3 linked regions of the Homo sapiens genome follow. Changing the gene in region 2 together with the main gene of any one other region gives a genetic interaction. Each region holds a gene or a part of one and is shown on either strand. Other genes may lie near its edges. The genes, in order: RINT1, EXOSC2 and BNIP1.

Evidence for each region.
Region 1: changes in EXOSC2 (region 2) and RINT1 together harm fitness more than expected from each alone (negative genetic interaction), as found in Homo sapiens cells (one large-scale study listed by BioGRID).
Region 3: changes in EXOSC2 (region 2) and BNIP1 together harm fitness more than expected from each alone (negative genetic interaction), as found in Homo sapiens cells (one large-scale study listed by BioGRID).

What each region holds. Positions count from the first base shown.
Region 1 is NC_000007.14:105,552,657-105,556,307, forward strand, and holds part of RINT1 (RAD50-interacting protein 1), read left to right. Parts: intron 1-2,371; coding exon 2,372-2,571; intron 2,572-3,651. UniProt on the Homo sapiens protein: Involved in regulation of membrane traffic between the Golgi and the endoplasmic reticulum (ER); the function is proposed to depend on its association in the NRZ complex which is believed to play a role in SNARE assembly at the ER.
Region 2 is NC_000009.12:130,696,706-130,700,356, forward strand, and holds part of EXOSC2 (exosome complex component RRP4), read left to right. Parts: intron 1-876; coding exon 877-922; intron 923-1,456; coding exon 1,457-1,546; intron 1,547-2,623; coding exon 2,624-2,689; intron 2,690-3,651. UniProt on the Homo sapiens protein: Non-catalytic component of the RNA exosome complex which has 3'->5' exoribonuclease activity and participates in a multitude of cellular RNA processing and degradation events.
Region 3 is NC_000005.10:173,161,525-173,165,032, reverse strand, and holds the end of BNIP1 (vesicle transport protein SEC20), read right to left. Parts: intron 2,961-3,508; coding exon of another isoform or gene 2,888-2,960; intron 2,722-2,887; coding exon of another isoform or gene 2,709-2,721; exon of another isoform or gene 2,673-2,708; intron 1,309-2,672; coding exon 1,112-1,308; 3' UTR 646-1,111; downstream 1-645. UniProt on the Homo sapiens protein: As part of a SNARE complex may be involved in endoplasmic reticulum membranes fusion and be required for the maintenance of endoplasmic reticulum organization. Also plays a role in apoptosis.

The sequences.
Region 1 (3,651 bases), on a different chromosome or scaffold from region 2:
AAATAATTCCTTTTTTTTTTTTTTTTTTTTTTTTTGAGATGGAGTCTCACTCTGTCACCCAGGCTGGAGTGCAGTGGCATGATCTCGGCTCACTGCAACCTCTGCTGCCCAGGATCAAGCAATTCTTTTGCCTCCGCCTCCCAAGTAGCTGGGATTATAGGCACCTGCTGCCACGCCCAGCTAATTTTTGAATTTTTAGTAGAGACGGGGTTTCACCATCTTAGCCAGGCTGGTCTTGAACTCCTGACCTTGTGATCCACCTGCCTCGGCCTCCCAAAGTGCTGGGATTACAGGCATGAGCCACCGTGCCCAGTCATCATTCCATATTTTTAACTATAAGAAAAATATGAAAAATACTAAGACAAAAAAATTAAGGAAAATTCATGTCTCTTAAAAACTTTTTATTCAGAAAATTTTCAAACATACACAAAAGTAGGATAATATGATGAACTCTCAGGTACCTATTGCCAAAGTTTAAAGCAATTATCACTTTTCTGTTATATTTTACTCCTCAATTTTTTTTTTCTGGAGTATTTCAAAGAAAATTTCAGACATCTCATCATGTCAATTGTAAATTCTTTTTTTTGAGACAGAATTTCGCTCTTGTCACCCAGGCTGGAGTGCAATGGCGCAATCTCGGCTTACTGCAACCTCCGCCTCCTGGGTCCAAGCAATTCTCCTACCTCAGCCTCCTGAGTAGCTGGGATTACAGATGCCTGCCACCATGCCTGGTTAATTTTTTTTTGTATTTTTACTAAAAATACAAAAATTTACAGGCAGTTGGCCAGGCACGGTGGCTCACACCTGTAATCCCAGCACTTTGGGAGGCTGAGGTGGGCAGGTCACGAGGTCAGGAGATCGAGACCATCCTGGCTAACACAGTGAAACCCCGTCTCTACTAAAAATACAAAAAAATTAGCCAGGCATGGTGGCGGCTCTACTAGAGATGGGGTTTCATATTGCCCAGACTGGTCTCGAACTCCTGACCTCAGGTGATCCACCTGCCTCGGCCTCCCAAAGTGCTGGGATTACAGGCGTGAGCCACCATGCCTGCCTGTAAATTGTCTTTTTTTTTTTTCTTTGAGACAGAGTCTCGCTCTGTCGCCCAGGCTGGAGTGCTGTGGCGCAATCTCGGCTCACTGCAAGCTCCACCTCCTGGGTTCACACCATTCTCCTACCTCAGCCTCCTGAGTAGCTGGAACTACAGGCACCCGTCACCATACCCAGCTAATTTTTTTTTTTTTTTTTTTTTTTTTTTTTGAGATGGAGTCTCACTCTGTCGCCCAGGCTGGAGTGCAGTGGCGCCATCTCAGCTCACCGCAAGCTCTGCCTCCCGGGTTCACGCCATTCTCCTGCCTCAGCCTCCCGAGTAGCTGGGACTACAGGCACCCGCCACCACACTCGGCTAATTTTTTGTATTTTTAGTAGAGATGGGGTTTCACCGTGTTAGCCAGGATGGTATTGATCTTCTGACCTCGTGATCCACCCGCCTCAGCCTCCCAAAGTGCTGGGATTACAGGCGTGAGCCACTGTGCCCGGCGAATTTTTTTGTATTTCTAGTAGAGACAGGGTTTCACTGTGTTAGCCAGGATGGTCTTGATCTCCTGACCTCGTGATCCACCCACCTCGGCCTCCCAAAGTGCTGAGATTACAGGTGTGAGCCACCGTGCCCGGCCAACTGCCTGTAAATTCTTAAATGTGTATCTTTTAATTTATTGAAGTTCTTTCTTTTTTAAAAAAATGCTGTTTATTTGTGTTGAAGAAACTGTCATTTTTTTTTCTTTCTTTTTTTTTTTTTGTTAGATGGAGTCTCACTCTGTTGCCTAGGCTGGAAAGCAGTGGTGCCATGTTGGCTCACTGCAACCTCCACCTCCCGGGTTCAAGCAATTCTCCTGCCTCAGACTCCCAAGTAGCTGGGATTACAGGCACACGCCACTACTGCCCGGCTAATTTTTGTAGTTTTGGTAGAGATGAGGTGTCACCATGTTGGCCAGGCTAGTCTTGAACTCCTGACCTCAGTTGATCCACCTGCCTTGGCCTCACAAAGTGCTGGGATTACAGGCGTGAGCCACCACGACTGGCCAAAACTGTCATTTTTATGTATAATTTTTTCATTTGCCTTTTTGAAAACTTGAGGTATAGTTTACATACAGTGTAATGTGCAGATCTTATTTGTATTGTTCAATGAGTTTTGGCAAATGTATATACTTTTGAAACTCACATCCTTAAGAGAGCTCAGAAATAAATCCATTCTTGACTACTGGTCAATTGATTTTTGACAAAAGCACTGAAGCAGGACAGTAGGGAAAACTTATAACTATATCATAGATGGTACCAAAACCTTCATATGTCTTAATAACTTTTTCCACAGACAGGTATAAAAATCTTCCCACAGCTTCCCGAAAGCTTCAGTTCCTGGAGTTACAGAAGGACTTAGTAGATGATTTTAGGATACGATTAACACAAGTGATGAAAGAAGAGACTAGAGCTTCCCTTGGCTTTCGATACTGTGCAATTCTTAATGCTGTGAACTACATCTCAACAGTACTAGCAGATTGGGCTGACAATGTTGTGAGTTAATATGCTTTTATATTAAGTAATATATACTAGTTCGAACTATTTTATTAATACTTTTCAAAATGTTGAATCTATTGCAAGCAAAAATAAACATGCTAGACAGAACCATAGTGCCATAATTAAAAGGTGTAATTAAAATACACATTTTTCTCAATCAAATCTCAAGTAGTTAAATAGTCCTGATATTTTAATGTATTTAATCATTGGAAAGGCAAGCAAGCCTTTCATGAAATAGTTGTTTATAGAGTGAACCATACTTGGAAATATTCATGTATGGTAATTGCAATCACAGGAAGAGCTAAGATTAAATAATGATGTCAAAAGCAATCCAGGACTTTAAGGAAAATAAAAGAATAATGTTTAATACCTCTTGAATGTCTTCAAAACATGACAGATTATAAAGAGTCATGAAAATAGGAAGAAACATTTAAAGTTTTAATTGTTTCATACATTAAAAATCTATTTGGCTGGGTGCAGTGGCTCATGCTCTTAATCCCAGCACTTTAGGAGGCTGAGATGGGAGAATTGCTTGAGCCCAGGAGTTGGAGACCAACCTGGGCAACATAGGGAGACCCCATTTCTCCAAAGAATAAAAAATAAAATAAAATTAGCCAGGTGTGGTGGCATATGCCTGTAGTCCGAGCTACTTGGGAGGCTGAGGTGGGAGGATCACTGGAGCCCAGAAATTCATGACCAGCTGTGCAACATAGTGAGACCCTGTCTCTACAAAAAATAAAAATAAGAAACTAACATTTCATGTATCAAATTTTCAAATATATGCAAGAGTAAATAGAATAGGAAAATGAACTTCTGTGGCGTGGCTATCACTCAACTTCTTTTTTTTTTTTTTGTGACAGAGTTTCGCTCTTGTTGCCCGGGCTGGAGTGCAATGGTGCGATCTCGGCTCACTGCAACCTCTGTCTCCTGGGTTCAAGGGATTATCCTGCCTCAGCCTCCTGAGTAGCTGGGATTACAGGCACCCGCCACCATGCCTGGCTAATTTTTTTTTTAGTAGTAGAGACGAGTTTTCACCTTATTGGCCAGGCTGGTCTCAAACTCCTGACCTCAGGTGAT
Region 2 (3,651 bases):
CCTTTCCAATTTGGATGCCTTTTATTTCCTGCATATGTTTTAAGGGTAGAGCCAACAGGTTTTGCTACTGGACTTGTCCTGGAGCGTGAGAGAGAGAGAGGAATCAAGGAACTCTCCGAGGTTTTTGGCCTGAGCAACTGAGGGGATGGAGTCACCGTTGACTGAGATGGGGACAACTCATCCCCTATCTCGGTTTGCTATGGAGGACTGGAGGGGGCTGCGGGAAAGCTTAGTTTTGTGCTTGATACATTTGAAAATGCCTGTTAGTCATCTAGATGGCAGAGTTGGGTAGCTAGCAGTTGAGTAGGATTTGGAATTCAGGAGAGTGGCACAGTCACAGCACAGAGTGGTGTTTTAAAGGTATTAGATTGAGTGGCCGAAAAGTGAAGAGGTCTAAGGACTTAGCCTCAGCACTGAGTACGTCTCATTAGAATCGCGGGTAAGGAACTAGCAAAGGGGCTTGAGAGGAGCAGGCAGTGAGTAAGTGGAGGAGACGTGAGCAGACTTGTGTGGTTGGAGTCCTGGCTCAGATTTCCTTTCTCTTCCTTTGGCTGGTGCAGAACTCATCCATGTGCCACAGGAAAATAGTCCGTGTTTTTCATTGTCGTGTAATCGAACAAAATAGGGTTTTTGGGCTAAATGAACTACTTGGAATGGTGATATGTCTAAGGATAGTTAATGGAGACTTTATACGTGGAGGAATGTTTGAAGTTAGCAGTTTCTGAAAGTAAGTCCAGACAATATAGTTACATGAATTTGCTGAATGTGGCGCCTGTTCCAGGCTTTCACCCTGTTGAACCGACATCTCAAATGGTGTGTGGTCTTGTCAGAAAGTCTGCTCACAGATGGATGAACCCCTTGTGTTTTGTCTTTCAGATACATTGGTGAAGTAGGAGACATCGTAGTGGGACGAATCACAGAGGTAACGTCGATATCAGATTGGTGTTTACAAAGTCGAGGCAGGCTGGCGATTTCATTCATGGGACAGTCATTCCACTTGTAGTTACATGAAAAAGGCATTCATTGCATTTGGCCGTTGTGTGGCTTCTGATGTAAATATGTGGCTTGTTCGATTTCAGATTACTGGTTCATGTTTTTTTTTTTTTGAGATGGAGTCTCGCTCTGTCGCCCAGGCTGGAGTGCAGTGGCATGATCTTGGCTCACTGCAACCTCCACCTCCCAGGTTCAAGCGATTCTCCTGCCTCAGCCTCCCAAGTAGCTGGGATTACAGGCACCCGCCACCACGCCCAGCTAATTTTTGTATTTTTAGTAGAGATGGGGTTTCATTATATTGGTCAGGCTGGTCTCAAACTCCTGACCTCAAGTGATCCACCAGCTTCGGCCTCCCAAAGTGCTGGGATTACAGGCGTGAGCCACCACATCTGGCCTTACTGGTTATTTATGATATGACACATGAACATGGAGCATGTGTCCAGGTGTGGAACTTGGCTTATAGGTTCAACAGAAGAGGTGGAAGGTGGAGACCAACTCCAGGCTGGATTCGGTCTTGCTGCTCTCGTCCATGAACCTTCCTGGAGGAGAGCTGGTAAGGGCTACAGCTGGGGCCATGGACTAGGGCCCAGTGGGCTGGGGGGAGCCGTGGGACCCTTTGTTCCACCAGAGGACTTTGATTTACACTGAGGTTGCCCCTTTGACTCCTGTTTGTCTGCTGTGAAGTTTGCTGCCTAGATGTGTATGTAGACTTTTCACCCTGTCCAGGTCTCCCGAAAGAGGGAGCAGTTGGCATATGGTAGGATCAGAAACATCCATGGGGTGGGATCCCAACAGAGAGTTGGGGAGAGAAGCCCTTAGATGCTGGTTGTTAACAGTTTTCCTTTTTGGATATAACAGCCTTGCATAGTGAAGATGTTCCTTGAAAAGTTGTCTTTACATTAGGTTTTTGTGAATTGAAAGGCATTTCATTCAACCATGTGTGGAATGTGGTTGCTGGCATTCCAGACAACCACAGTAACTAAGCCACAGCCTTTTGTAAAATGCCATGGTTCACCTTGATCTTCAGTCCAGCGTGTATTTACAGAGAGGCTTACTGTGCCAAGCTCTGTGCCGAGTGCCAAGCACGATTGAGTTCCCCAGCAGGGGATATAAGATAACTGACCTAGTCCCTGGCAGTAGAAGAATAAATAAGCTGTGGTTATACAAAAGGAAATTTCAGTGAGAGAAGCTTGTAGGAAAGACAGGCATTGGAGTTGATCCTGGAAGGATGGAGAGACTTTGAATGACTAGTTCAGGGAATCTGAGATAAAGGGAAATGTATGAGCAGAGATATATCCAAGCAGGAGTTAGTCTGGTCCTGCTGGACCACAGAGGGCTGTCATGGAAGATGACTATGGAAATGTTGGCTAGGTGAGATTGGGAGGGGTCTGAATGTTCCTCAGAGAAGGGAGGGAAAGAGGAAGAGGAGCTGTGGAAAAGTCTTTTGAGATGGAAAGTCGTGATTATCACTGATTCCCCTCAAGTGGCTTGGGTTACCTACTCTTGCTATAGTTCTCAGTGCTTGAATATTGTGGTTGGCCTCAAACATCTCAAAAGGAAGTGAAAGAGAAGTGATGGAGACCTTTCTGAGGATCTGGCTTAAGTAATGTCATTTCTTTGTGTATTTCAGAGGAGAAGATCTGCAGAAGATGAGCTTGCAATGAGAGGTTTCTTACAGGAAGGGGACCTTATCAGTGTATCCTGCGCTTTGCACTCCAGCCTCTTGATGCTTTTCTGTGGGACTGGGAAATGGGCCTTCCATTGTATGTCTCTGACGGAAGAACCATGTCATCCTTGCAGGGATCCGAGTCTTAGACCAAGTGTCGGGCTCTGCTGCATCCTTTCTCAGTCTCCTTAATTCAGGCTGACTCCCCAGCTCTTGTTGGGACCTGCTGCTAAGTCATTTCTTTGGGTCTTGTAACTTACGGTGGCCTGTGCTTTAGACTAGGCTTTTGTTAATGGTGTTAACTTTTAGCGCAGGGAGTGGAGAAGGTGTTGTTCACGTCAAGATATTAATGACAGGCCGAGTGTGGTGACTCATGCCTGTAATCCCAGCGCTTTGGAAGGCCAAGGAGGGAGGACTGCTTGAGCCTAAGAGTTCAAGACCAGCCTGGGCAACATAGCAAGACCCCCCTCTCTACAAAAAAATTAAAAAAGAATTAGCCGGGCGTGGTGGCACATGCCTGTAGTCCTAGCTACTCAGGAGGCTGGGGCCAGAGGGTTGCTTGAGCCCAGGAGCTCAAGGCTACAGTAAGCTATGATCACACCACTGCATTCCAGCTTGGGTGACAGAACAAGACTCTGTCTCTATTTTATGTTATTTTTTAAATTTTTCTTTTTTTTTAATGACGGAGTCTTGCTCTGTTGCCCAGACTGGAGTGCAGTGGCGCGATCTCGGCTCACTGCAACGTCCGCCTCTTGGATTCAAGCAATTCTGCCTTAGCCTCCCAAATAGCTAGGATTACCGGCGTGCGTCATGCCTGGCTAATTTTTGTATTTTTAGTAGAGACAGGTTTCACCATATTGGCCAGGCTGGTCTCAAACTCCTGACCTCAGGTGATCTGCCCACCTCGGCCTCCCAAAGTGCTGGGATTACGGGCATGAGCCACCATGCCTGGCCTCTGTCTTTATTTTATTTATTTATTTATTTATTTATTT
Region 3 (3,508 bases), on a different chromosome or scaffold from region 2:
AAAATGCTGGGATTAGAGGTATCAGCCACCACACCTGGTTGAACAGGGGCTGTTGGACCCTCCTTCCTGATAGTCTGTGAGATTTTATTTCCGTGTCTCCTTCTGTTCCTCCTTGAGGGAGGAACCATGTCTGGTTCACCAATGTATTTGTCATGTTCAGCAGCGTCTATAACACCCTGTGTGTGGCAGCTGTTTAATAGTTCCTTGTTGTTGGGTGGGGACAGAAAGAAAATAACAATGCTAATTCGTTGTTGAATGAATGAATAAATAAATAATCTAGGTTCATGTCCTAAAAATCTGGACATCAAGAAAAGAGGGCTGGGCATGGTGGCTCACACCTGTAATCCCAGCACTTTGGGAGGCCAAGATGGGTGGATCACCTGAGGTCAGGTGTTCGACAGCAGCCTGGCCAACATGGAGAAACCCCATCTCTACTAAAAAAATACAAAAATTAGCTGGGTATGGTGGTGTGTGCCTGTAATCCTAGCTACTTGGGAGGCTGAGGCAAGAGAATCTTTTGAACCCAGGAGGCAGAGGCTGCAGTGAGCCAAGATTGCGCCATTGCACTCCTGCCTGGATGATAGAGCAAGTCTCCATCTCAAAAAAAAAGAAAAAAGAAAAGAGGAACACACATTCCCAGAGGGCTATCTTACAAAATCAAATACATTTTATTCTATTAAATAAAATCAAGTTTATTCAAGGAATGACCAGGAGTTTTCATCACCTTTCTTCCTACCTCTTCTCTCTTCCCTCCACCAGATCTGGCATTTAAGGGCACGATGGGAGCGGGAGACAGGAGGGGCATCCGGTCCTGGAGGCTGGACTTTAAGTGCTCCACGCAGCAGCGGCCTCCCATAGTGCACAATGGTGGAAGGAGGCGGTTCGTATGTCCCCAGGGCGGCATCCCAATGCCAGACCTTCCTCCCATGGCTCTGTTCACCCTTTACAAGCCAGCTACTTGCAGAAAAGTGGGGCACTGTGTTCCATCCAACCTGCAGGCAACTGGTGCAAACGGAGGGGTGTGTGGCTCAGCTTAGCAGCCTAGAGCTCAGGAACCAGGACAGATCCTGAAACAGGAGCTGAAAGGGCCAGAACTGGCACCTTTGGGATCTCACAAAAATGGAAAGAGCCGCTTTTTCACAATATAGAGGACCGTAGCAAGAAACAGGGCTAGCGCAAGGAAGATGAGAAGCTTGTCCGTCAGCTCCCGGCGATTGTATTTTGTGATAAGCTTCCGGCCCAGCTGGATGGTGCCCGACATGGACTTAAATTCTTCATTTGCATCCAGGATCGTTCGTGAAGAAGTGACTGAAACAAAAGAGGAAGGAGGCCCAACTCAGAGACTGCAGCTCAAGATCCAAAGACCTCACTCTGCTGGCTGGGGTGCTGATAAAAACCAGCATTCTCAAGTGAGTTCCTCTGAGCTGGAATCAAAGCATGTGGAGACCAGCCAAGGAGCTGACAAGGAAAGGCTCCTCCCCAGGTCCCATCAGCTCCAGAGAGTGAGGGGGGGTTTGTCTGGGAGTCCTTGAACATGAGCGTCACCAGGGAGAAGGGCAGAAGAGGCTTGCTCACCCAGCCACCTCCTCAGCTCTCTGAAGCAGATGGACGCTGCTCAGGGAAACCACCAGCCACAAAATCAACCCAGGGATCGTGGGCAGGCACTGTGAGGTCTGTGTTGGGGCAGCAGCCAAATGCACCAGAACCTTCCACCTATGAGGTGCGGCCTCCAGGACATCTGCTGGCCAGACCGGCACTTTGCAGGATCTCAAAAGGGCAAGGGTGTCCCGGGCTCTGCCGTAAGCCCTCACACATACCAGTCCCTCAGGCCAGGGATACTGGCTGTAGCTTTAAGGAGGTGACACCTAAGAAGAGGCCCACGTCCCTTAAGGAATCACTGTCCCCAGAGTCAGATGTATTTCTGAATATGGGTATCTGGGCCTGACGCTGAGGGTAGAAGGTGTACCTGGCGAGGTTCTCCCACAAAACATAGCAAGGCATCATCAGAACAGCCATTGAATAGAACACATTAAGTGAAAAGGGAAAGTATAAAGGAACGCCTGTGAAATGTTTCCATTTAGGTAAGAAACAGGGAGATAAATGGTATTTCATTTGCTTAAGTTACAAAAGCTTGGAGGATCACAAGATATTTTTTAAGACACTGGTTACAGAGGTTGCCTCTGGGAAGTGGACCAGAGGGCTGGCAGGTAGGGGTCAGCTGGAGGTCAGAACAGAGAGTGATCTTTTTTGTGTCCCTTTTGTACTCTCCAGAGCTGTGCTGACCAATATGGCAGCCCCTAGACATGCGAGGCTGCTGTGCATAGAAAAACGTGGCTAATGCAAATGGAGATGTCAGGAGATGTAAGTGTCAAACCCACACAATGTTTCTTTTCTTTTTTTTTTTGAGATGCAGTCTCACTCTGTCACCCAGGCTGGAGTGCAGTGGCGTGATCTTGGCTCATCACAACCTCCACCTCCCAGGTTCAAATGATTCTCCTGCCTCAGCCTCCCCAGTAGCTGGGACTACAGGCATGCACCACCACGCCCAGCTAATTTTCTTTTTGTATTTTTAGTAGAGACAGGGTTTCAACATGTTGGTCAGGCTGGTCTCGAACTCCTGACCTCAAGTGATCTGCCCGCCTTGGCCTCCCAAAGTGCTGGGATTACCGGCATGAGCCACCGCGCCTGGCCAAAATCCACACGATGTTTCAAAGACTTAATCTAAGAAAAAGGAATGTAAAATATCTCAATAGTTTTTAATATTAGTTTTACATTGAAATTATAATATTTTACATAATGGGTTAAATAAACATCTTACTAAAATTAATTTCTTATGTTTCTTTTTACTTTTTAACATGTGCCTACTGGAAAATTTAAAGTTACATACGTGGCTGCTGTTGCGTTTCTATGGCAGTCCTGGGCTAGAGTTTTCTTATCCTTCTCTATGCTGTATGTGTTACCTTTTTAAAAATTAAAAGCTAATAAGTAAATAGGATAAATTATCAGAGGAAACACAGCAGCGTTTTGAAAATGACAGATAAAAGGAGAAAAACAAACACTCACAGAACAGGAATCCCTCTCCGCCTGCTTTCTCCACGCCTGCCTGCTGCGATTTCAAAACCCTGAGATCTTGCTAAGTAAAAATCTAATAGGCCTTTCTTTTTAAACTTTATTATTACGGAGAATTTTGAACCATCACAGAGCAGACAGCATAATATCATGAAATGCCATGTGTCCACCACCCATAACCAAGAACCACCAACCTCTGAAATCCTGCTCCCCCTCCCCCCAACTGCAACTACTCCTGCAATTGTGGAGCAAATTCCAGACACCATATTCCTAATAAGCTTTTTGTTTTAAAATTATGGTCCTAGTAGGCTTTTAAATCAAGCTGAATTTGTGAGGCATAAGGAAAGGGTTAAGAACTGTATTCTTCTCTTTTCTTCAATAGTTATCGCTTGTACAAAATGGGCCCCAAGAACACCGGGACCCTCTCAACACCCCAGAA